Regions from separate parts of the Homo sapiens genome. Here region 1 is linked to region 2. The links come from fine-mapping of genetic effects on gene expression. A gene starts in region 2. The other region holds a variant in brackets. All regions are shown on one strand. Distances are from middle to middle.

Region 1 (5,384 bases), 78 kb before region 2:
GGATAGCATTAGGAGAAATGCCTAATGTAAATGATGAGTTGATGGGTGCAGCAAACCAACATGGCACATGTATACCTATGTAACAAAACTGCACGTTGTGCACATGTACCCTAGAACTTAAGTGTAATTAAAAAAAAAGAAAAAAAGAAACTCCAAAACTTTTCCCAACATGATTATGTCATTATGCTTCCACCAGTAATGCCAACAGTTCTGGTTGTTACAAACCTTCGCCAACATATGGTATTATCAGTCTTTTTAATCTTAGTAATTCTGGTGGGTGCGTGGAGTATCTCATTTTTGAAGTTTGTGTTTGAATCATTCGTTTTCTCTGTCCACAGTGCCTTAATATGTATGCCTCATCTCTCCGAAGTGGTGGACCCTGTTTACCTGCTCTGGAGAATGGCTGCCTGTGGCAGACACAGGAGTTGCTCTCACACTGTGCTTCCTGTCTTCCATAGTAACTGAGTTGTAGCTGCGATGCAGCTACTAACCAGGAATAGTTTCTCAGCCCCACACCTTGCACCTACAGCTAAGTGTGGCCATGTTCTCATCAACGAAGTGCGAATAGCAACAAAGTGCACCACCTTCAGGTTGAGGCTTTGAAGAAGCAGGGGTACCCTTCCCTTGCTCTCTTTCCCCTTGTGCTGGTGGGATATATATAACAATAAGGCCCTGGGTGATAGTAGCCACCAGATGCAAAATGCCTCAAACCTGAGTCACCACATGGAAGAGAAGAAGCCTCTGACCTGGAACACCTAGCCTGGTCTATAGATGAACAAGAAATAAACTTCTGTTATGTTTGAACATTACAGATTTGGTTCTGTTATAGCAAGTTAGCTTACCCTGACTAAACTGTTGCCTGTCTCTTGGAAGGTGTGCCCTCCTTCCCTGAAAGTGACTTTTTCATACATGTAATTTATATTTTAATCCATATTCTCCGAAGCATATCCACATCTATTCAACTGTTTCCATGTTTTCCACCAACAGAAACCTCATATAAATAAATATATATGAAGGTTTATTGCATTATTCAAGGTTCTTTAAAATTTTATTGAAGTATAGCATATATACCGAAATGTGCACAAAAATATACACTATCTATATACACATTATAAATAACACATATATCTGCAGAAATTTACAATGCTATCTACATCTGGGGCATTCCCTTCCTTTCTACTTTTTCTCATTTGCTATTTTTTCAGCCTGGTGACTGAGGAAGTCAAGAGAATAAGAGTTGTAGAAGGACATACTGAGTGTGTCACAGGCCCTTCCAAAAAGGCTGAACTCCAGCCTAGGAAACCAAAACTGGTCCTTTAAGATTGCTCAGATGCTGCTTAATTCCTGTGCCACAGTCCTACAGTGTCGCCTTTTTCCATTGTTCTTTTTTTTTTTTTATTTTTTTTATTTAAGAAAGAGGATATATATCAGGTAGGGGAGAATGTAGGGTGCAGAGCTACCTCGTCTCCTCTCCCAGAGGAATTCAAGGCTCCAGGGCTGCTGCTGGCCCATGTGGCAGATTTGGTAAATTGGAAAAACCACTTCCAAAAAAAGCACTTTTTTTGCAAGTCATGTTACTTCCACCTGTCAGGTATTTGTTGCAATATAACTATACTAGTTTCATTAGAATTAGAACACTTTCCTGCCACTTGCTGGAGAGTGGTTGCAACATCTAAGTCCACGTGTCTGTGATGCGACTGGTGTCTGTGGATGAGGCACTGTTCTACCTTAACCAACCTACACTGCTACAGTTGGCCTTCAGGTTGCAGAGCAACTTGTAGTTTTGATTTTTTTCAATGCATCAGGGATATTTTTAAAAATATTTTAATTGAAGTATAACATACATACAGAATAAAAAGGCAGAGGTACCTAAAAATAATAAAACAACAATAAAAACAAAACCAAGAAATCAGCAGTTACACAGGAAGAATTGTAACAAGCTCAGGATTTTTAAAATGCATAAATGATGCAAGCAATACCACAAGCAAAAACCAACACCAAAAATTTGCAAGGACCTAGAGGAATAGGTCAAAGTGAAGCCTCCGCTTAAGCTGGGTTATATGCAAGTGACTTCTGCAAAGAATGTAAAATCCTATGATATCCTTGTAGATAAACTGGAGAAATATGAGCAGATAAGTGGATCAGTACATTGCTGAAATTCTTACCTAATGGGTGTTGAGTAAAAGATTGGTCAATTTGCATCCTACTGAAGAGAAGTTTCTGAGGCCTCCCACAGGGCCTCAGTACTTGGACCTGTTTCATTCAGTATGGGAGGTTTATGTATGAAATTTTGGAGTTACTGGAAAGAAGAAGATAGCTAACATATCTTAGATAAATCCACAACCAACTCAAAAGGTTAATAAATTTTACCCAAGAAAACTTAATAGGAACAAATAAAGGTCCTGCAAAATAGGTTAACCAAAACACCAACCAAAAATAAGCTCGAAGGACTCAAACAGTATCATGCAGTTGCCAGAAAATCTAGTTCAATATTTCGGTGTTAAATAGAAGAACAGAAAAGTATTAATGAGAATAAAGGAGGAGACAGTTCTGCTACCCATAAATGTTCAGTTCTGGGTTGCATACTTTAAGAATGATCAAGAAAATGAGAGCACATTGGGAGAAAAGGGTCCTGGATGGTGAATACAGTTGGCGTTAGGATATATAATGGTAATCAATGAAATAATGGGGGACAGAAAAGAGAATATGCTGGAAGT[C/T]ATCCTAATAGGTGGGGTTAAATTTTGGCCCTATCAACCTAAAATAATCAAAAAGGTCAGAATCTAATTTAAACAGATAATTCAAGCGCAGAGTTTGAGGACAGCCCACCCAGGAGCACCAGCTCCAAAGGAATGGAGTCAGCGTGCTGAAGGAAGGAAGCTCAAGGTTTCATTTCCATAGGCAGAGACAGGAGTTTTTGGCAGGATTGCAACATTTTTCATACAAGGTTGGCACATAGTTACAGCAATTTGGTTACAGGCAGTGTTTCTCTTGGGAAAGGTACACTGAACACCTTTTACAGAGGGTGTAGTCATGGGTTTTCTGTCATCTGATCTAAGTGAAGCAGGACAACAAAGGAGAAGTTAATCTATAACAAAGGTCATTAATTAAGAAGGCAGGTGGTTTTTGTACCTGATGTAGTTTTATTCTCTCTAGTCATTGTACAGAACAGGAAGAATAATCAGGGAAATAAAAAGTTGTTAGCATATGTGACTCAGATCAACTACATCTCTCTCAAGGCTTAGTGTTTTTTGTGGGTTCCAGGAGCTTTTAAATACTTATTTTCATAGCCCCGAGGGTTAATAAGACAACTGAGGAGAAGAAGCAGAGATGCAACACGACAGGCAGAGCTGATCAAAGATGGAAATGAACTCATTCCTGACACTCACACTAGAGGCTGCTGAAAGATCATCTGGCATTCAGGGTTTTCTCAGCTTTGAGATTTTATAACTATATAGTTAGAGATCTGCCCAGCTATAAAATGTATTACTCTATCTTTGAAGCACACACAAATGACAAATCTTCAGAACTACTGTTAAAACTTCTGGGGACACAAAACCACAAATCATTCAAAGAGTTTGCTTTATTGGCTGTTCTCAAATGGGCAAGCAGCTGTGTGTGTGTGTTTTTGGTGTGAAAGCGCCTAGAAAATGTAGTTTATTTTGGCATATTTTTTCTAGTGTTAAAGCAATCAGCATGGATACGTAAATTGTTGATAGTGAAAGACATTTCATTAGTTTAGTATTGTACACTGTTACACCGCTATAGGAAAAATTCTGTCTCAACTGCCAGATTCACGTGTCCCGCCCTAAAAAAGCCAAAAGCCCTAAAAATACATGTGTATATGTATATATATACACATAGATACACACACACACACTATATATGTGTGTGTGTGTGTATATATATATATATATATCTCAAGTAATTATACACTTCTAAATATAGATACTGGAAGTCACTAAAGTAAAAAAAAAAAAAGGTCTAATATATAAGAGTTATTCAGATTTGTATTCGCGTAGAACAAGCCAGTTCCTTTCATATTAACTATGCACACCACCTCCTTTCAGAAGAGATCTGGGAATGATAAAAACCAGTCGGAAGACGGTCTTAACCGTTTAGAAATCCAGTAACTTCCGATTTAAATGGTGCTTTTAGGAGAAGGAAAACAACGCCAGATTAAAGCCTGCCTTTAACCATAAGAGTCCCTGGAATCAAACCAAAAGTGCTGCCAAGAAGCCACAGGTGTTTATCACATGGACAGGAAAAAATATGATTTTGAAGGGCACAGTGACAGTCCTTCTCTGTCTCCACTAATGGGTTATAAGATTAAAGGTTAACAGCAGTACAAATACTATAATTATATAATGCTGGGTTTATTTTTCGTTCGGGTTTACAAAAAAACCTTTTTGTCCGCGTGCTTCTGAGTGCTTGGAAGGTCTGCCAGCCACTGCCTTTCTTGTCACCAGAGCTCTCAGCAGGTTTACAGATGGACGTGCCCAAGACTGCCATCTGGTGGATATGATAGAAATTGAAATATATATATATATATGGTTTTTTTTTTTCTTGCAGGATTGGGGTTGGTAAGTAAATAAAACTAGTTGTCTAAGAAGGTATACATTTAAAATATACTGAGGAGGGGGGTTCACTCATCACAGCAATAAGAAATATAAAATAACAAGGAATTAATTTAAGAACGGTGTAGATCATATGGAGAAAATTACAAAACTGTACTGGGGACATTAAAAACACTTGTATAAATAGAAAGATGTAGCATCTTCCTGGTGGAACTCACCTTGGCTAAAGATACCAATGACCCCTACATTAATCTACACATACAACAATTCAATCAACACATTAATGAGATTTTTATTTGGCAGGGATATCTTGGCCAAGTTATTGAAAAATTCATCTGGAAAAATAAACACATTCAATTTTTGTAAATGTAGAATAATAAGGGGCATTTTCCCTATCAGATAATAAAATGTATAGTAAAACTATGATAATTAAGATGACATGGTACTGACACACAACACAAAACGATAAAATAGAATGCTTATAAAAATACAAGCATATACATGAATATGTCATAAAGGACAACTTCAAATAATGAGAAAAGATTGGCTTATGTAACAGCTGGTATAAAGGGATAATGGAAAAATCTATAGGAAAATGTTATATTAGATTTTTACCTCAGAAATAAGTTCCAGTTGTATTAAAGTACAAATATTCAAAAGGCCAATGTCTTAAAATATATGTAAATATTTACTTAGGATATAAAAAATTGTCTTTGTATGCAACTGAAGGTTGATGAAACTGTTAAAGAAAATTCTGAAAATTTTGAATGTAAAAGTATGACACTTGTTGAAACATATCAAATTTAACAC
Region 2 (5,384 bases):
AGAGTCTTCACAGAAATCAGACACCCAGTGTAAGAAAACGGTGTTGAAAGCTCTGCTGGTCACTTCAAAGAGAACAATCACTTCAACAAATCCAGAGGATAATGTACTAGAAACTGGGGAAATCTTACAGTATGAAAGCTCAAATAAAAATACTCGTGCTAATATACAGCAACAAAAAGAACCACTGCAGAAACTGTTGTAAGACTTCATGAGAGCAAAAACAAATGAAGAGGCGAAAACACAACAACCATTAAGACAAAAAAAAAGACAAAGAAGGCATTGAGAGAAGAAGCACAAAATAAAGATTATCCCTGAAAATGTGTGGACTAAAATATTCTGTTCTAAATACTTAATTTTAAAATTTCGATTAGAACAACACACTGTCCATTTGGCAGACCTACAAAAACATTTCCTTAAAAAATTACCATTACTTCAACTATATTTTTAAAAGGCCTGTACACTTGGAAAAGACTATCATAATAATTAGAATAACTTGTCTCACTATTTACTTAGAAATGCCCCATTTAAAAGTAGGCCAACAATAGGAACTTTGCTATTGCACAACAGAGAAAGTAAATGAAATAACATCTATTAACATTCAGCGTCCATGGCATGTTTCTCCATCTCCTAGAACATACTGTGACTTACACTGTCTACTCTGAACAATTTACCACTTCTTCATCCATGCAGTAGCTCAAATAAAGACAGTTCCTGTGTTAATCCCACAGTAAGCCTCAGTAATTCTCACATCACCGTAGTTGTAAACGTTTGTTAACAGAAAAAGAATGTTTTTCCTAAAATAGCTACATAACACTAAGACTACTCAAATTCCTAAATAATCCTTTTACAACATGCCTGCCAACTTTATTTTGATACATTAAACATGTGGAGCCTATTTTAAAAGCTCTTTAACTGTGACTATCAAAACAACTTCCCAGTTATTAACGTCTCTTTTTAAAAAAGTTTTCAAGTTGTTCTTAGAAGAAATTGAATATTGATGAATTTGGGCTGCTATCAAACGCCTAAGAAGCACTTTTTTTGCCGAATAAGATGGGCAAACGTCCCAGATCTGCTAAATCTGATATGAGAGGTCATGCAAGTTTAAAAAATGAAGAAATAACTATTTCCAACACTCACTGAGTCCTTCATTTAAAAAATTATTTTCGGTGTTATTTTCACACTTTACGTTTAATAATACAATTTTTTCAAGGTTGTTAGGCTTAAACTATGAAAAACTGATTTACCACATATGGCTAGTCAGTCTATACTCTTAATGGGGCTCCGGTAGATTTGGGGTACTGACAATAAGTGGCAGTTTCAATTAAGAACTTCACTGTTAGGAATGACATCCGAAAAGGATGGTGCTAGGGAAGACAGGCAAGAGATGCCGGGGTACGAAGAAAAGAGAAACACACAATTTAAAGCCACTAAGGAGGGAAGGCGAGGGTAGAACGCATAGACAGCAGAGAAAGACGATTTAACAAGGAAGTGAAGTGGAGCGCAGAGTAGGGCAGAAGCTGATGAGGAAACGAATGGTAAAAGATAGTGTTTTCAAACAGGGCATGCACCAGGAAGAGAAGCGCCAAGGCTTGGGGTAGCCCCAGTGCTTTCGTGTGAAAGAGATGCTTGCAGACTGAAGCGGAGGGAAGAGAGAATCAGTCAGCTTCCAGGCGTTCCAGCAAACTCCCATTCTCTCCCTGCGCCTCTCCCAGACCTCAGCCCAGCGGAGGCGGCGGCCGGGGAAGGGGCCTATACCCGAGAGCCAGGCCCGGCGTTCCCCTGCCTAGGCTCCGCGGCAGCAGGGAAAGCAGCGAGGATTCGGAAGGACAGAGGCCCCGGCCGCGGCTCGGCAGCACCGCGAAAACCTGCCCAGGGCCCGGGGCCTCGGCGGCGCGGCCGGTCAGCCGCTTCCCCTCCGGCGGGGTGCCGGGCGGCCTTACCTGAGGCAAGGGAGGGAGAAGATGTCTAGGGCGCCTCGCTCGCGCCCGCCGCGGTACTCAGCCCAAGTTTCCAACGGAGGCGCGACCCTGACTCAGCCGCCGCTTCCCCCTCGGGGTCTCGACCGCCGCCTCCGGGGCTGTTTACACCGCCCGGCCCCTCACGCCGCCGCCGCCGCCGATGCCGCCTTCTCTCCACCCTAGCGCCGTTGCCGATTCGGCCGCCGCCACCTCCTCCGCCGCAGCCTCGTCTCTCTGGAGCATCTTCCAACCACCGAACCCTGAGAATCAGAGACTCCAGCCGCGCCGGCAGGAAACTCCCCCGCAACTGCTAGGGGAACGAGGCCGTCAGAGCACCGGCGGCTTTTCCGCCATTGAGCAGAAGCCGCTCGGCTCCTTTTGCAACCCCCTCCCCGCACCCTAGTCCTTCCCCGCCCCTCAGGGTGCCCCGCCTCCAGCTGCCACCCACTGGGATGCCGCGCGCCCTCTCACGGCCCCCGGTTTGCTGGGAGTCTTGTCAATCACCGCTCCCCCTCCCCGTGCTGCTCCCTCGGCACCTCCGTACTTCGTTTACCCCGCCCACCCGGCCCCGCCTCTGGGTTTCTAATTTCCCATTGGGCATCAGTGGCTACTTTCAATAGGCAAGGTCAGCTGTCCATCAAACACCGCCCACTAAGTGAGACCCAACCCTTTATTACCATTTACTTTATTCGGCCCCGCCTCCGCTAGGTCCTACCTCCCGAACGTCAGGGACCAGCCCCCGCTACCAGCCATAAGTAGAGCCCTCCGTCAATCAAATAACGCCCACCTGCGCTCCTCCTAGCAAAGCCCCGGCCCCAGCGATTGTCTTTTCTTATTGGTCCAACTCGTGATCCGAACCCCCAGTCACTGGCTTTCTTGCGGGTCAGTCACTGAGCCAATTTCCAAGTCCGTCACACCGGCTTTTTTCAAATGAACGCGCAAAAGGCGGGGAAGTATCTGGAAAGCGATTGGTTCGTCCTAGAAAACGGTCAAACCCGGAGAGTCTGTACGGATCCTTTCCGTTCTGTGAGGACCGTGCCCCCTTGTATTTGACCTCTAAGCCTCGCGTAAAAGAAGCGCCATAAGGGACCAACGAGCAGTCCAGCTATAGGTGTGGACGCCTGGTCCCACCCGGAATTGCAGGGGCTTGGCTACTGATTGGCTAAGAAAGTCCTCCTAGGCCCTCATTGGAGGATCTAAACGCCTCTCTTCGGCGTGGAGACGGGAAGGGACGACTCAGACGAGGACAAGAAGTGGGCAGGGGAGAGGCGGTTGTTTTGCTTCAGCCGCGGGTGGGGCGCAGGCGAGAGTGGGAAACTGGGAAGGCCGGGCTCTGGGGAGGTGTTGCGGGGAGGGGAAAGGCCCGGATGTTCCCTAACAATGAAATCATCGCCGACCTATCAGAGCCGCCGAGCTGGGATACCTGCCTGACCTGTACCCCGGAGGGAGAAGAGTGGGCGGGAAATTGGGGTGTCGGAAGAACCTGGAAAGCAACGTGAGAAAGTGGGACAGGTGTTCCCTTCAGGAGGATTTTGTGCTATTAGAGATTATTTTTATACCAGCCCTTGACATTTCCGTATTTTGTTTCTCAGTCGGCATTGATATTAAAACTCCCAGCCTAGTCTCTTGACATGGACTTGTTCATTTCGCAGTTATTGAGCGCCTACTGTTTGCCAGGTACTGTATGTAGAACTGGAGATACAAAAATAAATTAGGCAATCGCAGTACAAGATGATAGGTACTACAATTGAAACATGCACAAGGGCTGGTGACGACATAAAGGGTCTTCCTTGTGCATAGGTTTACCAAGAAAGGCTTCACAAAGACACAGGATGAGTCAAGAATGAATGATAGGGGTTTAACAGGCCGATGGGGAAAGTGGACATGACTCCTCCAGCTATCAAATTAGACGATGCTGCCATGTTAATTCTCCAAACGAGAAACAAAAGTGTAATAGAGGTATTCTAATACTTACCTTAGGATATATATATATATATATATTTTTTTTTTAATCCGAATGTCCTAAAAGAACTTAAACCTATTTCCTACTTTGGTGTAAAATGGTTTGGGCAGACAATTTAAGCTTAGACCCAACAGAGTGCTATTCAGGTTAGGGGCTGTCAATGTTTTATAGAAAAGGGCAAATTTAGTAATAGGACAATTGTCCAGGCCGTCATAAGGACGGCAGAAACAAAGACTTAATTGCAATTCGGGTTTTTTTGTTTTTTGAGCAAGCATATTTTACTTTTTAATAAGACAAATCTGAAAAAGCAAACGCGGTCCAAAAAGCATGTGATTCGGTAAGAGAGATTTTAAAAAACCAAAAAACCGTATCTTCTTTTCACCCCAGATCTTATTAACTGTGTGTTTTCCTCTTCGAGAACTTGTATCGTCAATAACGTCATCGTGAACCAGACTAGCAGTGTGGATCATTTCTGCAATTAAGGCTATGGCGCGGTGGCTGGCTTGCACATGTCAAATTAACAGACAGCAATGCTTTTTAACAGACGCCGCCTAGAACCTTCTCAGCAATCAGCTTGTGAAAATTGGACATCGGATCGGGAGTTGTTATGATGGATATTACATGCTCGGGCCATTAGCACCCCAATAATTGGTCGAAAGGCTTTTCCTTTTCCATCAAAGTAGTACTCAGACATTTCCTGAAGTTCTGTTGTTGATATGAGCAGTTCCTTTCTAATGTCCTCATACAGACCTTTCAAGTCTCTGCAACCGAATTTGAAAGGATCGGTGATCTGTATATTTCTCACCACTGTGTGTTTTACTGTCCGGGGTTGTGTGATAAAACCGTGATATACTGTATACATTTGGACAGGCAGATGTTAAGCGCTTCACAAGACTAAAATAGGGTATCTGAGACAAGCCGAATCCCTTCCGCCTATGAGCCTGAGCGCGGGCGCCGGCAGCGGCGCGCGGCCCTGGAGGCCCTGCAAGGCCGGGGGAGCCGGGCACACCGCCACCAGCGTGAGGCCATGGTCGGAGACTGAAAGTCGCGGCAGGGTGGCGGCTCCGCCTCTGCAATTCAGATTTTTAAAACCTACTCATCAAGTTTGTGTGAGAATGGTGTTTCTTACAGCATGGTGAATAGACCACCAGCATCCGAATCATCTGGGATTCTGGGATAGAGATTCCCAGGTCCACTCATGCCTACAAATCAGGGACTCTGGGGACAAGGCTCAGAAAGGTGAATTTTAAAATAGCTCCCCAGATGATTTTTTTTTTTTTTTTTTTGAGACGGAGTCTCACTCTGACGCCCAGGCTGGAGTGCAGTAGTGCAATCTCGGTTCAGTGCAACCTCCGCCTCCCAGGTTCAAGTGATTCTCCTGCCTCAGCCTCCCGAGTAGCTGGGATTGCAGGCACCCACCACCACGCCTGGCTAATTTTTGTATTTTTAGTAGAGACGGGGTT

Which allele goes with the higher level. Positions count from the first base shown, and alleles are read on the strand shown. Sizes are in standard deviations (SD) of each study's normalised expression.
With allele T in place of C in region 1, the expression in fibroblasts of the gene that starts at base 2,340 in region 2 is higher (small effect, 0.39 SD a copy in GTEx).

What was found. PIP is the estimated chance that this variant, and not a neighbour inherited with it, causes the effect.
Region 1: its variant is fine-mapped to the expression of PPM1B in fibroblasts (GTEx, PIP above 0.99).

What each region holds. Positions count from the first base shown.
Region 1 is chr2:44,243,353-44,248,736 of GRCh38, reverse strand. It overlaps a transcript of PPM1B not described here. Among named protein-coding and RNA genes, the nearest start is that of SLC3A1, 29 kb to the left of the region's middle. The variant C/T (reference allele first, on the strand shown) is at 2,718.
Region 2 is chr2:44,165,831-44,171,214 of GRCh38, reverse strand. It overlaps PPM1B (protein phosphatase, Mg2+/Mn2+ dependent 1B), which reads right to left and starts at 2,340. Exons shown (of 6, transcript NM_002706.6): 1 at 1,941-2,340. It overlaps PPM1B-DT (PPM1B divergent transcript), which reads left to right and starts at 2,423. Exons shown (of 2, transcript XR_940034.3): 1 at 2,423-3,917. It also overlaps the pseudogene PDSS1P2. RefSeq lists silencers at 1,780-1,989, 2,310-2,639.